4 linked regions of the Homo sapiens genome follow. The protein of the gene in region 1 purifies or fractionates together with the protein of each later gene. This does not show direct contact. Each region holds a gene or a part of one and is shown on either strand. Other genes may lie near its edges.

Region 1 (3,500 bases):
TAGATATAAAGGCTACAATCCCTAGACTAAGAAGTAGGTCTCCAGTTGAAGTAGGGAGTCTCAGTCAATGTAGGCAGAGTACAAGACCCTACAGCCTGCTCTCTCACCTGCCATCGTACAGACCAGCTTTTAGGGGAGCCAAGTTGGGATACTCAATCCCAACTTTTTTCCTTCTCTTCCATCTCACATACAGGAAACCTTACGAGAGAGGATTAGGGGCCTGAAAAAGCTGACAAGACGGCAAATATGGGAAGTGGAGCCAGTGCTGAGGACAAAGAACTGGCCAAGAGGTCCAAGGAGCTAGAAAAGAAGCTGCAGGAGGATGCTGATAAGGAAGCCAAGACTGTCAAGCTGCTACTGCTGGGTGAGTGAGATGGGAAGATGAGCCAGAGAAGGCAGGGGTCCTTCCTACTTTCCTGAAGGGTTGGTGGGTTCTACCTCACCCCATGGGAAGGAAGGGTGGCAGGTCATTTTTCCTCTCCTCTACACAGTCTGGCTAGGGGATCAGGAGATCTAGAGCTGAGTTAATATGGGGCCTAAACAGCCACCCCAAGGGGATCCAGAATGCCAAGGCTATTCCAGAGTTTTTCTACTCTTGAGCGAGGAATAGTGCAAGGGCCACCATGAACCCACCCATTTCCAAATCTAACCAAACCTAACACATCCTTTTGGCTTCAAGGACCCTGGACTTGCAGACTGTACCCAATCTGCAGAGAACTCTAAGCCAAGAAATCAGAAGAGAACAGGACCTTCCCTCACCAACAGGCTCACAAGTCCCACCATACAGTCAGTGCCAACAGTACCAGAGATAGTCCCACTGGTTTTTGCCAAGTATAGTGGTTCCTTCTTGCTTTCAGTAAAAACTTTGGAAGTAGGGGGCTCTGAGGAAGGAGGAATGGTGTCTTTATGTACAGCAGTCCCTTCCTGGCTCTCTATTCAATAGCTGCCTGCAAAGCTCCTGCCAGATGGAAGGTTCATCAACTTGATGAGCTCCTAAGCAGATCACTGGTCTGTGCTGAGAAAATAAAAGCACCTCAATTTGTCAGGGAAATTGATCACAGCTGTAAATAAAACCAAGACAAGAACATTTGAGACACGTGGCTTAGGAAAACAAACCACTGGTACCACAGAAGTAGGGTAGCTGGAGCAGGTAGGGTCTACGTAGCAGAAGATTAGATGCCTGAGCTGGGTTTCCAAGCCCCCATAAGGGATCTGGGAGCTGACGCACTAGGCTAAGGCACCTTCTTTTCCCCCAGCTGATCTGTGGCACAGTCGTAAGGACACACTAAAGGAGCATATCTTTGTAAGCTGGACCAGACTCTAAGGAGCCCAGGAGGTTACGCAGGGGGAAACAGAGATGGTGGGGCCACTGAGAGATCTTTTAAGCCTAAGCAGATTTCTTCTACATTCAGGATAAGCTGCTTAGAGGGAACAAGCACAAGCGAAATAGGAGGAGTTCGAGGCATTAGGGTAGTATAAACTCAGTACTAGAAGGTATGAGTTTTTGATGGAGAGAGCAGAGTGTGAATGAGGACATTAGGACACATTAGTCAATAAAGGGAACCCACTTAGCCCCATCCAAGACCAGGTTGAGCAACATGGTGAAAACCTGCCTCTACGGAGGGGCGGGGGGAAATGGCCGGATGCAGTGGCGCACGCCTGTAATCCCAGCGCTTTGGGAGGCCAAGATGGGTGGATCTACCTGAGGTCAGGAGTTTGAGACCAGCCTGGCCAACATAGTGAAACCCCATTTCTACTAAAAATACAAAAATTAGTCAGGCATGGTGGCATGCGCCTGTAGAGTCCCAGCTACTCAGGAGGCTGAGGCAGAAGAATTGCTTAAAACCCAGGAGGCAGAGGTTGCAGTGAGCCAAGATAGCACCACTGCACTCCAGCCTGGGAGACAGAGCAAGACTGTCTCAAAAAAAAAAAAAAAAATGTAGTCGGGCATGATGTCGCACACCTGGAATCCCAACTACTCAGGAGACTGAGGTGGGAGGATCACTTGAGCCTGGGAAGTCAAGGCTGCAGTAAGCCGAGATTGTGCCATTACACTCCAGCCTGGGCTACAAACCTGAGACCCTGTCTCAAAAAAAAAAAAGGGAACCAGCAAGGTGATGAAAATATAGTTATTTTGGTGAAATGATCCAGCTCTCTCCAATCCTACCCCAAGATCACTCTCCTGAGTCAAAAATAGGCAGAGAGGAGAAATGTTAAAGGACTCCCCCTGAATCTGTTAGTGGTTTTCAACAGGAAGATTTTGACTGCCAGTGGTCATTTGGAAATGTCTGGAGACACTTTTGGTTGTCATAACTAGGGAAGTGGGATGCTATTGGCCTCTAGTGGGTAGAGGCCAGGAATGCTGCTGAACATCCTACCATGCATGAGACAGCCCAAACTAAATAGTACTGAAGTTAAGAAACTGCTCTAAATCCAGGTTGAATGGCCTGAGCTCAAGCCTGCCAGAAATTGAGGGCAGCAGTCATCCCTATGTATTCTCCCCTAACAAGACCCCCAAGCAAGCAGTGGCTCTGACTTCTCCCAGGCCATCTCCTGGAAGGCTGAGGAGAACTGGTGGAAATCGAAAGCATAAGCATTTTTCCTTCCAGGTGCTGGGGAGTCAGGAAAGAGCACCATCGTCAAACAGATGAAGTGAGTAGAAACAAAGCCCCAAAAGACAAGATAGGGTGAAGAAGTCAGTACAGCCAGTGGAGGTATTCAAAGTGAAAGGCTCTTTAGCCTCAAGGAGCCCAGGTATAAAGGATCTGATTCCAATGCCCCTCATCTGTACCCCTTGTCCCTCACCCTCCACTTTGAGAAAGCAGTAGCAACAGAGAGATAGGATTCTTATGATCCTTTAAATACCCCCAAATTCCTAATCCCTTAGGTCTGGTTACTCAGGTCCAGCTAAAGACAGAGTGTCTGCCCCTTGCAGGATCATTCACCAGGATGGCTATTCACCAGAAGAATGCCTGGAGTTCAAGGCTATCATCTATGGAAATGTGCTGCAGTCCATCCTGGCTATCATCCGGGCCATGACCACACTGGGCATCGATTATGCTGAACCAAGCTGTGCGGTATGTGATTACTATTATGTGGTTAAGGGTGGAAGCAGAAAGGCTAGCAAGAAGAAACATACCAGAGGCCAACAAACTATATGGAAAGATGGGTAAGAAAAATAGTAACTAAAATCCCACCTGCTGGGTGGGATCTCACTGCTAGGTGTACTGTGTATACCATCTCAAGGCCCTTTACCCATCTACGCAGTAAGACCTTAAGGTAGACGGTACCTTTCTAATTAGCCTCATTTTACACATGGAAAAACTGAAGTTCAGAGAAGTTAATTAACTGCCCAAGGTCATGTAGATAAATAGCAGAGACTGCATTTGCATTGGGCTGCTTGACTACAAAGCTGAATATTTTTCATAATACACCACAATTATGCAGTCCTGGAGAAGTAAGCAACATCCACCCTTATTTTTACTGGGACAGGGTCTTCC
Region 2 (3,500 bases), on another chromosome or scaffold:
GCCAGAATGGGAAGAATTTCTTAGAGAACTTGGCTGTATACTCCAGCAACAGTTCTTTTTTTTTTTTTTTTTTTTAAATCTTTGAAGATTATATAGAGTAGATAGGATAAAATGATCTATTTTTAAGTCTTGATGACACAGGATTAAGAAAAAGGCAAGTGTGATAGAGGGGATTTGGGATTATTGTAGTGTTGGGCTAACGGTTAAATAGATGCTAAGGTGTCCAGATTTATTTCTGGCTGATAAATGTATGCTGCTGCAGGTGTTTAACAATCTAAATAGCTGTGACAGGTTTATGCCAAAAGTACATTAAAGGGTAGTGAACAATGTCAGGATGCCCGTGTATACCAGACTCTTAATAGTGGGACATGTGGTATATGAACAGTACAAAGCTAAGTGATTTCTGTGCATTAAAACAGATAAATCACAGGTTGAAAAGACAAAAAGCGGCTGGGCTTGGTGGCTCACACCTGTAATCCCAGCACTTTGGGAGGCTGAGGCAGGCAGATCACCTGAGGTCAGGAGTTCGAGACCAGCCTGACCTATATGGTGAAACCCCGTCTCTACTAAGAATACAAAAATTAGCTGAGCATGGTGGCAGGTGCCTGTAATTCCAGCTACTCGAGAGGCTGAGACAGGAGAATCGCTTGAACCCGGGAGGCAGAGGTTGCAGCAAGCCAAGATCGTGCCACTGCACTCCAGCCTGGGCGACAGAGCGAGACTCCATCTCAAAAAAAAAAAAAAAGACAAAAAGCATGTGATAAGGACAGGCTGAAAGACAGCTTGTTAATTTTATACCATATCTACATTACTGAGAAATTACAGCAGCCAAAAAATTACTGTATTAATAGGTAGCATTTCACTCTCAAAACAGATAACCAAGGTGTTGTTGCATATTATAGCATCAAACATTGAAATGTAGAAGCTTGGTTGTAACCAGGTGATAGGAAGTTCAACGTATAATTATCAGAAGGATGATAATCATACATAGGAAATTTTGTACTTTAACATTTGTACTTTCGAATTAGATAGTCTATGCTGTATGTGACATTTATGTAAACAAATAATGGCATCTGTTACTTTGGAGAGTATCACCTTGGATTAGAAAAAGGTGATAAAAGCATTTACGAATTTATAAAAAAGCACTTACTAAGGTAATTTTTTATACATTTTTTAGGTCTGTTAAAATACTTATCCTCTTCTAAAATTAGACTTGTTGATCTAGGGACCATTCTCTTTCCTTAAGATAACTATGTTTCTATACTGACCTACATTCCATTAATCTGAAATATAACTATGAAGGCATCTTATTTCTAGGTGCTTAAAATCGTGACCCTATGCACTGACCTAAAATCACTATGTCTGTGCCCAAACACACAGGTAGTGAAGACCCTGTGCATATAGGGTCAGTTTATTGCATATTCATGTTAAAATAGTTCTCAAACTCCAGAATTACTAAAAAGATGTATCAGTTCATATTTGTATCAGCTGGAGTCTATGAATAATATTTCATATATGTGTACTACTAGTTTTCAAATGATACAGTATAAGAGTGATAAGAGTATGGGCCAGGCATGGTGGCTCACACCTGTAATCCCAGCATTTTGAGAGGCCGAGGTGGGTGGATCACTTGAGGTCAAGAGTTCAAGACCAGCCTGGCTAACATGGTGAAACCCTGTCTCTACTAAAAATACAAAAATTAGCCAGGTGTGGTGGCACATGCCTGTAGTCCCAGCTTCTTGGGAGGCTGAGGCAGGAGAATGGCTTGAACTCGGGAGGCAGAGGTTGCATTGAGTCAGGATTGTGACATTGCACTCCAGCCTGGGTGACAAAGCGAGACTTCATCTCAAAAAAAAAAAAAAAAGAGTATGGACTCTGAGGCCTGATTGGCTGGATTCAAATCCCAGCTCCACACACAGTAGCTGTGAGATTTTGGACAAGTTCCTGAGGTCTGTGCTATACTTTTCTTATCTATAAAATGGGGATAACTGCCTAGCTCATGAAATTATTATAGGGATTAATGCAATTTAATTAAGTGTTGGCTATCTTTATTAAATAGCTATTAGTGTTATTATGATTAATGAAATAAAAATTTTTATTGACTACAGTTAGGAATATAGAGTAGCTTTTTGTTACTGTGAGGGGAGAAGAGTTCAAATAATTGTAGGGATTCTTGTATATATTGAATATAGTTTGGGACTGTGGTAATAATGTGCACTAGGTTTTGGTCAGCAGTATTACTGATTTGCCTATAGAGACAGATTATTTAACAAAATAGATATTACATACTGTAGTGGAAAAGGCCACTGACTAGGGAGTCAGGAGACTTGGGTTCTGATCTCAGCATTACCACAAACTAACCAGCTGTGTTGCTTTGAGCAAATGACTTGTCTTTTCTGGATATTAGTGTACTCAGATTGGAATGAGGACTAGATAATCTCTGAAGCCTCTTTCAGTCTTACCATTGTCTTTTTCTGTGACATAAAGTAGAATACCTGAGTTGGAATGAGACCTTAGGTCTAATCCATTATTCCTTTATAGCATGAGAAGAAGCTATGCAAAGACATTGTGGTGAATGGCAGAACTAGTACTAGAATCTCCTCGAACAGACTATTACTCTGCATTAAATGGGGAAAGCATTATCCATTGTAGAAATGGCCAGCTAACTCATTGCCTTTTATTCTTATATGATTCTTCAGTGCTTCATGTTGCAATCCTTGAGTCAAGCTGGAGAAAAATGATTGCAAATTGTACTGGTGCTGTAATTAAAAGGGATTTGTCCTTTGCAAAACCTTAAATGATAAATGATAATGCATGAAGGCATTCTAACTAGCCAACATTAAAGAAACCATATTTCCAGCAAAGGTAAAATCTGTTAGTAAGTAGGATAGCATGAATTCAGACCTTAGCGTTTGTGCAATTTGTGTGTGATGGCAAAGTTAATGCCCTATTCCAAAGTGATGGATTTTAATCATGAAATCTGTAATAATTCAAATGTCTTAATTACTTTGGTTCTTAAATTGTCCATATATGGTTTAGACCAGAGTTGAACAAACTAGCCCATGGACCAAATCTGTTTTTGTATGCATGAGCTAAGAATTGTTTTTACATTTTTAAATGGTTAAGAGGCTGGGTGCAGTGGCTCACGCCTGTAATCCCAGCACTTTGGGAGGCTGAGGTGGGCTGATTACTTGAACCAAGGAGATCGAGACCAGCCTGGGCAACTTGGCGAAACCTCATCTCTACAAAAAAAAAAAAAAAAAAGAAAAAAGACAAAAAATTAGCCAGGCATGGCGGTGCATGCCTGTAGTCCCAACCACTTGGGAGGCTGAAGCAGGAGGATCATCTGAGCCGGCAGGTTGAGGCTGCAGTGAGATGAGATTGTACCACTGCATTCCAGCCTTGGTGATAGAGTGAGACTTTGTCTAAAAACATAAAATAAGATAAAATGGTTAAGAAATCAAAGGAAAAGAATATTTCATTACGTGTGAAATTACATG
Region 3 (3,500 bases), on another chromosome or scaffold:
GAGGCCTACCTTTCAGCTTCCCACAGCACCCAGGAACCTTAAGAGCTGCTGACCTGCTGGTGGGCCTGGCCAGAGCCTTCTCACCAGGCACAGCTATGCCTGGTCGTCAAGACAACCAACAGGCAGCCAGAACTACGGAAAATAAACTTTTTTATCTGGATTCCAGGACCCTTATCCTAACCTTTTACTTTACTATAGTACCTCTGCAACCTACGGGGCAGGAAAAAAAGGGAAGAAAAAATACTGGGGAAGAAAACACAGCACTGTTTGGCAGCTCCTTTGGCGCGCAGGAAACTGCCACCCCAGCCTTGGCTTCCTGGGGCCAGGTTCCAGATGTGTGTTGACAAACTGCAGCTTCGATCATCTCCGTGTGCCAGGATCTTGTGGCCGCGGCAAAGCACCTCCCCTATCTACTCTTGCAGCACTTACTGGCCTCCATTATAGGCATAATCAGCCTTGTTGTGCATTATCAGCTTGTTGTCAACAAAGTAGAAGCTGTCAGAGCGGGTCTCGTAAGGATTTTCAATCATTAGACGAACTGCAAGTCAGGCAAAGGGGGAAGAAAAAAGCAAAGAATTATGTTTGAGTCTGCCCCACAGGGTAGGTGGGAGAAAACTTTGCATCCCCTCCAAAATAAGCCAGCGCTTCAGAGTATACTCTGCCAGAATAACGATGAGGTCAGAACAGAGGGAGGCAGCCCTTGACAGCTGGGGAGACCACAGAGGCCCCCCAGCTGAACATGATCTCCATTTCAACATAAGGATGCAATCAACTCTCCACCATGGCCTCCTCTGTCATCTCCAGCCTGGATTCTTCAGCCAAGATACCAGGGAAATGTGCTCACCCCTCTTCCCAACATGGACCCCACCAACCTATTTACTCAGTGCTCTCAGCTGACCAAAGCCAGCCCTGGCCTCTGGTCAGTGGCCCACCTCTAGACATTCCACTCCAAATTCAGAAATCTGAGCCTCACTGTGCCCACCTCCACACACAACCCTGACAACCCAAGGAAACCTAGATTGGAATGAGTGCAAGGAACACAGGGCAGGGAGCCTTCTCCGGAGACCTTCTGGGTATTAACTCGCAAATGATTCAGCAATAGGTCTGCCTGTCTTGGGATCTAAAGTAAAGTCTTGTTTGTTCAGGCAATTGCCCAGACCTCTTTAACCATACTGGAGAGTAAAGATAATTAACAGTCACTACCTCTGATCAGTTTTGAGTTAATGATTACATGCCATTTTGAGTCTTTAACCATACTGGAGAATAAAGATAATACTACCTCTGATCAGTTTTGAGTTAATGATTACATGCCATTTGGAGTCCCCTGGAGGAAATGCTGTTGCTCACCACAGTTCTCAAAAAGTGAAACTGATTTTTTAAAGTTCTTTGAACCCACCAATGCCAAAACTACTCGGTTTATATGCATAATATTGCCCTCCAGGCTGATTTGGCTTCATGGGTAAAACTTATAACACTATACATCATCTTTTCTTGCAAGTATCTACATATTCTAGCCAGCTTGGGAAGAGGGGTTCAAGTCAGAACCAGATGCTGTCGTCAACACCCTGCCCCACATCTCAGCAATCCTCATTTTACCTGGGAACTGTACTGCCACACGATTAAAGGTTATCTGGTTTTCAGAATATGACAATTCTTAAGGACCTGGGATTCTGAGAGGACCAATCAGTGATGCCAGCAAGGCAACTACAGGCATCACTAGTCACAGGATTCTATTCACACCCTCATAAATGACTTGAATTTTCCCTAACTATTCACAAAGGATGCGAACCTGAGGTGGCTAGGCCAAAGTTGCAGAAACTGACAAGGGCTGTTCTTTCTCTCTCGTTTGGTCCCCATCTTCCCTTGCCGAGGCTACACGGCAGCAGCCTTCTCCCTCTGGTGCCCTCCCCAGGTCTAGGCCACTCTTCCTCAAACAGTATTTCCACCTTCTCACTCCTGCCCCAAAATCTACAACAGCCCCATTCCTTCCTGCTGGATCTATCTCAACACTTTATCCAATCAACTCTCTATCCTGCAGGGAATGGAAAAGAAGTCCTCTGGCCTTGATTCTATTTAGCCTGCAGTTTCACATCTAGCTCTGATTAAGAAAAAAGTGAAGGGCCAATGACTAAAACACAATGGAAAACCATGACTAACAGTGCACAGGAGAGGTGCTTTATCTGATCAGCGTCCCAGGGATGGTCACAGGCCTCCTTTTATCTCCCTTAGGCACTGTCTTCCCACAGGAGGCATCTAAAAGGATGGCCTGTATTATTAAAACCTTCAGACCGGCCGGGCGCAGTGGCTCAAGCCTGTAATTCCAGCACTTTGGGAGGCCGAAGCAGGCGGATCACGAGGTCAGGAGATTGGGACTATCCTGGCTAACACGGTGAAACCCCGTCTCTACTAAAAATACAAAAAATTAGCCGGGCATGGTGGTGGGCACCTGTAGTCTCAGCTACTCAGGAGGCTGAGGCAGAATGGCATGAACCCAGGAGGCAGAGCTTGCAGTGAGCCGAGATTGCGCCACTGCACTCCAGCCTGGGTGACAAGATCAAGACTCCGTCTCAAAAAGAAAAAAAAAAAAAACCTTCAGACTGAGCACAGTGGCTCACGCCTGTAATCCCCAGTACTTTGGGAGGATGAGGCAGGTGGATCACAGGGTCAGGAGTTCGAGACCAGCCTGACCAACATGGTGAAACTCTGTCTCTACAAAAAATACAAAAAATTAGCCGGGCATGGTGGCAGGTGCCTATAATCCCAGCTACTCGAGAGGCTGAGGCAGGAGAATCACTTGAACCCAGGAGACGGAGGATGCACTGAGCCAAGACTGCGCCACTGCACTCCAGCCTGGGCAATAGGGCAAGACTCCGTCTCAAAAAAAAAAGAAAAAAACAAAAGGGCCGGGGGCAGTGGCTCACACCTGTAATCCCAGCATTGTGGGAGGCCGAGGAGAGTGGATCATGAGGTCAAGTGTTCGAGACCAGCCTGACCAACATGGTGAAATCCCGTCTCTACTGAAAATACAAAAACTAGCCAAGTGTGGTGTAATCCCAGCTACTCAGGAGGCTGAGGCAGGAGAATCGCTTGAACCTGGGAGGCAGAGGTTACAGTGAGCCGAGATCGCGCTGCTGCACTCCAGCCTGGGCAACAGACAGAGCAAGACTCTGTCTCAGGGGAAAAAAACAAAAACAAAAACAAACAAACCCTTCATTGCTCCCATACGGGCCGAGTCAGAGTTTAGAACAGGAGCCAGGAGCAATAGGAAATGAGAAGCCTGAGGTCAAATGACTAGATACGCATCATGTCAGCACTGCCACGAGACAATGCCAGGGCGCTGGACCAGATGGGTTTCAAGGTTTGTTCCTTGTAGCCCTCAGAATCTAGAGTGCTGTAAGGGTCAGGGGATACATACTGACATCCTCCGAAAGCTGGGGAAACTCATAGATATGTTCACAAGTGTTCCTACTGCTGGGGATGCAGAAGCCAAAATCAAAGTC
Region 4 (4,252 bases), on another chromosome or scaffold:
CAAAACTCAACCATAAGAAAACAAACACTCTGGAAAAAGAGTTTGGCTGTTCCTCAAAAGGTTACACAAAGTCAGCATATGACCCAGCAATTCCACTTCTAGGTATATATCCAAGAGAATTTAAAACATACATCCACAAAAAAACTTGTACATGAATGTTCAGTGGCATTATTCATAATATCCAAAAGGTGGATGTTTAGGAATAATCTAAACATCCAGCAACTGGTGAGTATAGATAAATAAATTGTGGTCTATGAATATAATGGAATATTATTCAACCCTAAGAGCAAATGAAATAGTCATACATCCTTCAACATGGAGGAACCTTGAAAATACATTAGGTTAAAGAAGCCAGAAACAAAAGGCCACATATCATATAATTCCATTTAAATGAAATGTCCAGAATTACCAAATCCATAAAGACAGAAAGATTAGTGGTTGCCAGAGGTGGAGTAGTGAGAAGGGAGGAAATTGGGAGTCACTCCTAATGGACATACGATTTAATTTTGGGGTGCTGAAATATTCCGGAATGAGAGAGTGGTGATGGTTGTACAATTTTGTGACTATACTAAAAAACACTGAATTGTACATTTTAAAAGAGTGAAATTTATGGTATATGAAATAAATCTCAAAAAAAAAAAAAAAACGTACAACCCAATTTAAAACCACTCTTAGGTATTTATCCAAGAGAAATAACAATTATGTTCACACAAACACCCGTACGTGAATGTTTATGACGGCTTTATTTATAACCTCCAAAAACTGAAATATTCTTCAACCAGCAAACAGATAAATACTTACAGTCAGGCGGGCGCAGTGGCTCACGCCTGTAATCCCAGCACTTTGGGAGGCAGAGGCAGGCGGATTACTTGAGGTCAGGAGTTTGAGACCAGCCTGGCCAACATTGCAAAACCCCCTCTCTACTAAAAATTAGCCGGGCGTGGTGGCGGGGTGAGATCAACTGCAAAGGAGCAGCTGAGAGAATTCGGGAGGCTTGATGAACCTTTTATGTGCCATTATTGTGGTGGTGCATACATGCCTCTTAGCATTTGTCAAGACAGAACTGTATCACAAGAGTGAATTTTACTGCATGTAAATTTTAAACAAATAAATAAGTTGATTAATCACACTCTAGACAAACCTCCACCCTGAATGTGGAAGCAAGACTCCACTACAGATCAAAGTTCACCTCAAGTATTCTTAAGGCTTCCTTCTGAGGTACATGGGAGACAAATTTTATTTTCACTTTGCAACTAAGAAGCAGCATAAACAGACTGCAAGTTTCTTGTACTAATCAAACAGGCTGAGCAGCTATCACTATATCCCTAGCTTTTGTAGTCCACTCACTCTCCATCATGATACTAGGTCCCCACGGTAGTAACATTCTTTAAAATCAAACTAAACTACCTGTTTACATTATCTCATAAACGAGAAGAGTCAAGGTAAGTATTTTAGAAGAAGACTGGAAGTGTGTGCACAGACAAGAATAAATTACTTTAAATATATATTTAAACACACACACTTCACACACAAAATTAACCCTCACTTTGGCCTGGGAAATTCATTTCACAAAGGAGTCTAATTTCTAGCGGGTGTTTAAAATAAACAAGCGCATAATGCAAAAACAGATGGAAACACTAAAAATGAGGCTCTCACTAAGGCAGAATACCACACTAAACGGACACAAGGAAAGCTCGGTCCTTCACCACCTAGGCAGCGTAGGGCCCTGTTCAGCCCGGTCTTTTGCAGGTCTGAGACGTTGCACCGCACGCCCTGGTTTTTCTTTAAAATTCGGCAATTCACTCTGACCCACATATCCTAAAGTCTTGAAAATGTTACACATTCCTAGGTCAGGCTGTTAACTGCAACCACACAAGCAACTGTTTGAGTTACTTTGCACTTGAGTTTCCTTTTTGTTATCCGCCGAACCCAGGCGAGAGAGAGCCGGCGTCCGGGTCCTAGGGCCGGAAGGGGGAGAGCAGAAAGCACCACGGGTGAAGCCAGGAATTGAGGCTGGGGAAGCAAGGAAGCGGGCGTCCCCGGTCACAGCGCCCTGCCTTCACGTGCGAGGCAGCATGCAACACGCGGGGGATTTCTGGGGCCTTCGTCATAAACCCAGGGGGGCAAAGGACAGGGATGGGACCCAGCCCAGGAAGGCGTCGTCTCGCCTCCTCGCCCCGCGCGGCTAAAGCCGGACCGTGCGGGGCCAGGGGTAGAGAACGGCCCCTCGCCGGGACTTGAACGCCAGACCCACGGAGCCCACGGCAAGTCCGCTCCGCTCGGAAAATATAGACCTTTTCATCCCGCACTCATGACCCTCTCCTTTCCCCCAAAATATAAACAACTCGAGGGCGGAGGCCAGGGAACTGCCGCCCGGCTTTACGTAACTTGACCCACAGGCGGGCGGCGGCAGGTGGCTGCACCCGGCGAGCAAGGTGCTCGAAGCCCCGAGAACGCAGGACGCCGCTCGGGCAGCGAGACGGCCGGGAAGCACGAGAGGCCGGGGAGCGGCGGCGGCGGCCTCCTTACCTTTCCAGATGCCCAGAGAGAGCTGGGACGTGTCCAAGTCCACCACATAGTCCCCCAAGAACCGGTTCAACACGTCCACGACCACCGACTCGAAAACCATGTTCCTCAGCCGTGGTGGGCACGGCAGCCGGCCCGTGCGCTCCTCCTCCCGCCGCCTTCCCCACGCCCCTCCCTCGAGGTAATTCGGTTCACCGGCTCCGGGGCGGCTTCAGCTGCGGCGCCCCCGCTGGCCCAACGCGCAGCCCTAGCGAGCCCAGCGAGAGACGGAGGCGGTCGCTCTCACGACGCGTGCGCAAGTCTGCGCGCGGCTGGAGGCGGAGCGCGGCGCAGACCTGGGCGCGCAGCCCTGAGAGGGAGGAAAGGCGGCTGCGCGGCCGCGGCTCTGGAGGGTGCCCTTTTCGCGCCGAGCCCGGCTCCTCTTTCCTGTCGGCCCCGCCTCCTCCCCATCGCCTGGCAACGGGACACCGGTCTGGAGCTACCGGATTTTTTCCGACCCCGCCCCCTCCTGCAGATCAGCGTCCCCAGCGGCCCCCCAGGGCGGGGCGGTTACGCCCGACGGGAACGCCCCTCCCCCTAGAAGGTGGTGGCCGCTTCCACGCGTATGACAGGGCTCGCCCCTGAGTAAGGGTGGGCGGATCCCAGCCCCGTCGCCAGAAGCTTCAAGGGGGCTGTCCCAGGGAGCATCTCCCCTCATCATTACAGGGTGGGAGGGTCCAGCCAGCCTGGGTGTCTTGGTGCCTGTAACCTCCCCGCCTGGTCCTCCGACCGCCTGGCTCTCAGGAGGAGTTAACTTCCTGCTGCGAGTCGAGGATGGAGTTACATAGTCCCTGCCCTGCATCTGAGATGAGCACCCATTTTTGGTCAAGTCATTTATACGGAGCTGTCTTTCATTCCAAAGAGTAACACGCTTCCCTGCAGATAAGAGTTGGAGTCAGCCGGTCTGGAAACTGCTGAACACCCTCCAAGAAATACTGGGAGTGCTGGACCCTTGACCCCTATGCCTCCACCGAACCACTGACCTAAAATAAATTACAATTACAGATCTTTCGACCTGTTTGGTCTTACTTAGAAGTAATCCCAAAGGCCTGAGGTCACAGAGATGCTAAATGTGAGGTTTAGAGAACTGTAATTAATCATCTGCAGGACCGAAAAAGTGTACATTGAGCGTTTTCTCTTTACACGTTAAATGAATAATGATGGATTTCTATTAATTCCTGTGTCATTTTACTACTTTTTGTGCATAGTCACCGACTTTTCAAAATTAAATGTTTAGGGTGTGCCTTTGCAAGTAGAATGCCTGACAAAAACTGTAAGTTTTTACCTGAGTTTATGAATGTTTTTCATATAATTTTATATTTGAAGGACCTTTATGAGGTCTCCAACCTCCTAGTCTTAAATATAATGAAGCTGAAGTGTTAGGGATGTGTGCAAGGTCATACAACCAATGTTCTGTGGAAGAACTGGAACTTGGCCCTTCTGATTGGCTACCACCCCACCTGCTTCTCTCTCATTCAGCTAACAGTCTGCTTCAGAATACCTGCACGGAGAAACGAATAGAGGCTAAAATGCCTAGGAAGGGGAAGAGCTCTACATAATGAGGCATTTTGCCATTGCACTATTAATAAGAAGCCAGATACACAGTAGCTGCAAAATTCCGCTGTTATATCTAGCGCTGCAAATTCAAAGTTACAAGAATTTCCAGAACTCCAAAAATCCATCTTAA

The links.
Region 2: the proteins of GNAT2 (region 1) and OCIAD1 purify together in Homo sapiens (affinity purification with mass spectrometry; 3 studies listed by BioGRID and IntAct, with this or other methods). This does not show direct contact.
Region 3: the proteins of GNAT2 (region 1) and UNC119B purify together in Homo sapiens (affinity purification with mass spectrometry; 2 studies listed by BioGRID and IntAct, with this or other methods). This does not show direct contact.
Region 4: the proteins of GNAT2 (region 1) and VPS13A purify together in Homo sapiens (affinity purification with mass spectrometry, with the first as the bait; one large-scale study listed by BioGRID). This does not show direct contact.

Annotation. Positions count from the first base shown.
Region 1 is NC_000001.11:109,609,617-109,613,116, reverse strand, and holds part of GNAT2 (guanine nucleotide-binding protein G(t) subunit alpha-2), read left to right. Parts: intron 1-32; exon of another isoform or gene 33-193; 5' UTR 194-246; coding exon 247-364; intron 365-2,609; coding exon 2,610-2,652; intron 2,653-2,935; coding exon 2,936-3,077; intron 3,078-3,500. UniProt on the Homo sapiens protein: Guanine nucleotide-binding proteins (G proteins) are involved as modulators or transducers in various transmembrane signaling systems.
Region 2 is NC_000004.12:48,837,588-48,841,087, forward strand, and holds part of OCIAD1 (OCIA domain-containing protein 1), read left to right. Parts: intron 1-3,500. UniProt on the Homo sapiens protein: Maintains stem cell potency. Increases STAT3 phosphorylation and controls ERK phosphorylation. May act as a scaffold, increasing STAT3 recruitment onto endosomes. Involved in integrin-mediated cancer cell adhesion and colony formation in ovarian cancer.
Region 3 is NC_000012.12:120,716,958-120,720,457, reverse strand, and holds part of UNC119B (protein unc-119 homolog B), read right to left. Parts: coding exon 3,416-3,500; intron 539-3,415; coding exon 426-538; 3' UTR 1-425. UniProt on the Homo sapiens protein: Myristoyl-binding protein that acts as a cargo adapter: specifically binds the myristoyl moiety of a subset of N-terminally myristoylated proteins and is required for their localization.
Region 4 is NC_000009.12:77,176,082-77,180,333, reverse strand, and holds the start of VPS13A (intermembrane lipid transfer protein VPS13A), read right to left. Parts: upstream 2,801-4,252; 5' UTR 2,630-2,800; coding exon 2,530-2,629; exon of another isoform or gene 2,417-2,529; intron 1-2,416. UniProt on the Homo sapiens protein: Mediates the transfer of lipids between membranes at organelle contact sites. Binds phospholipids. Required for the formation or stabilization of ER-mitochondria contact sites which enable transfer of lipids between the ER and mitochondria.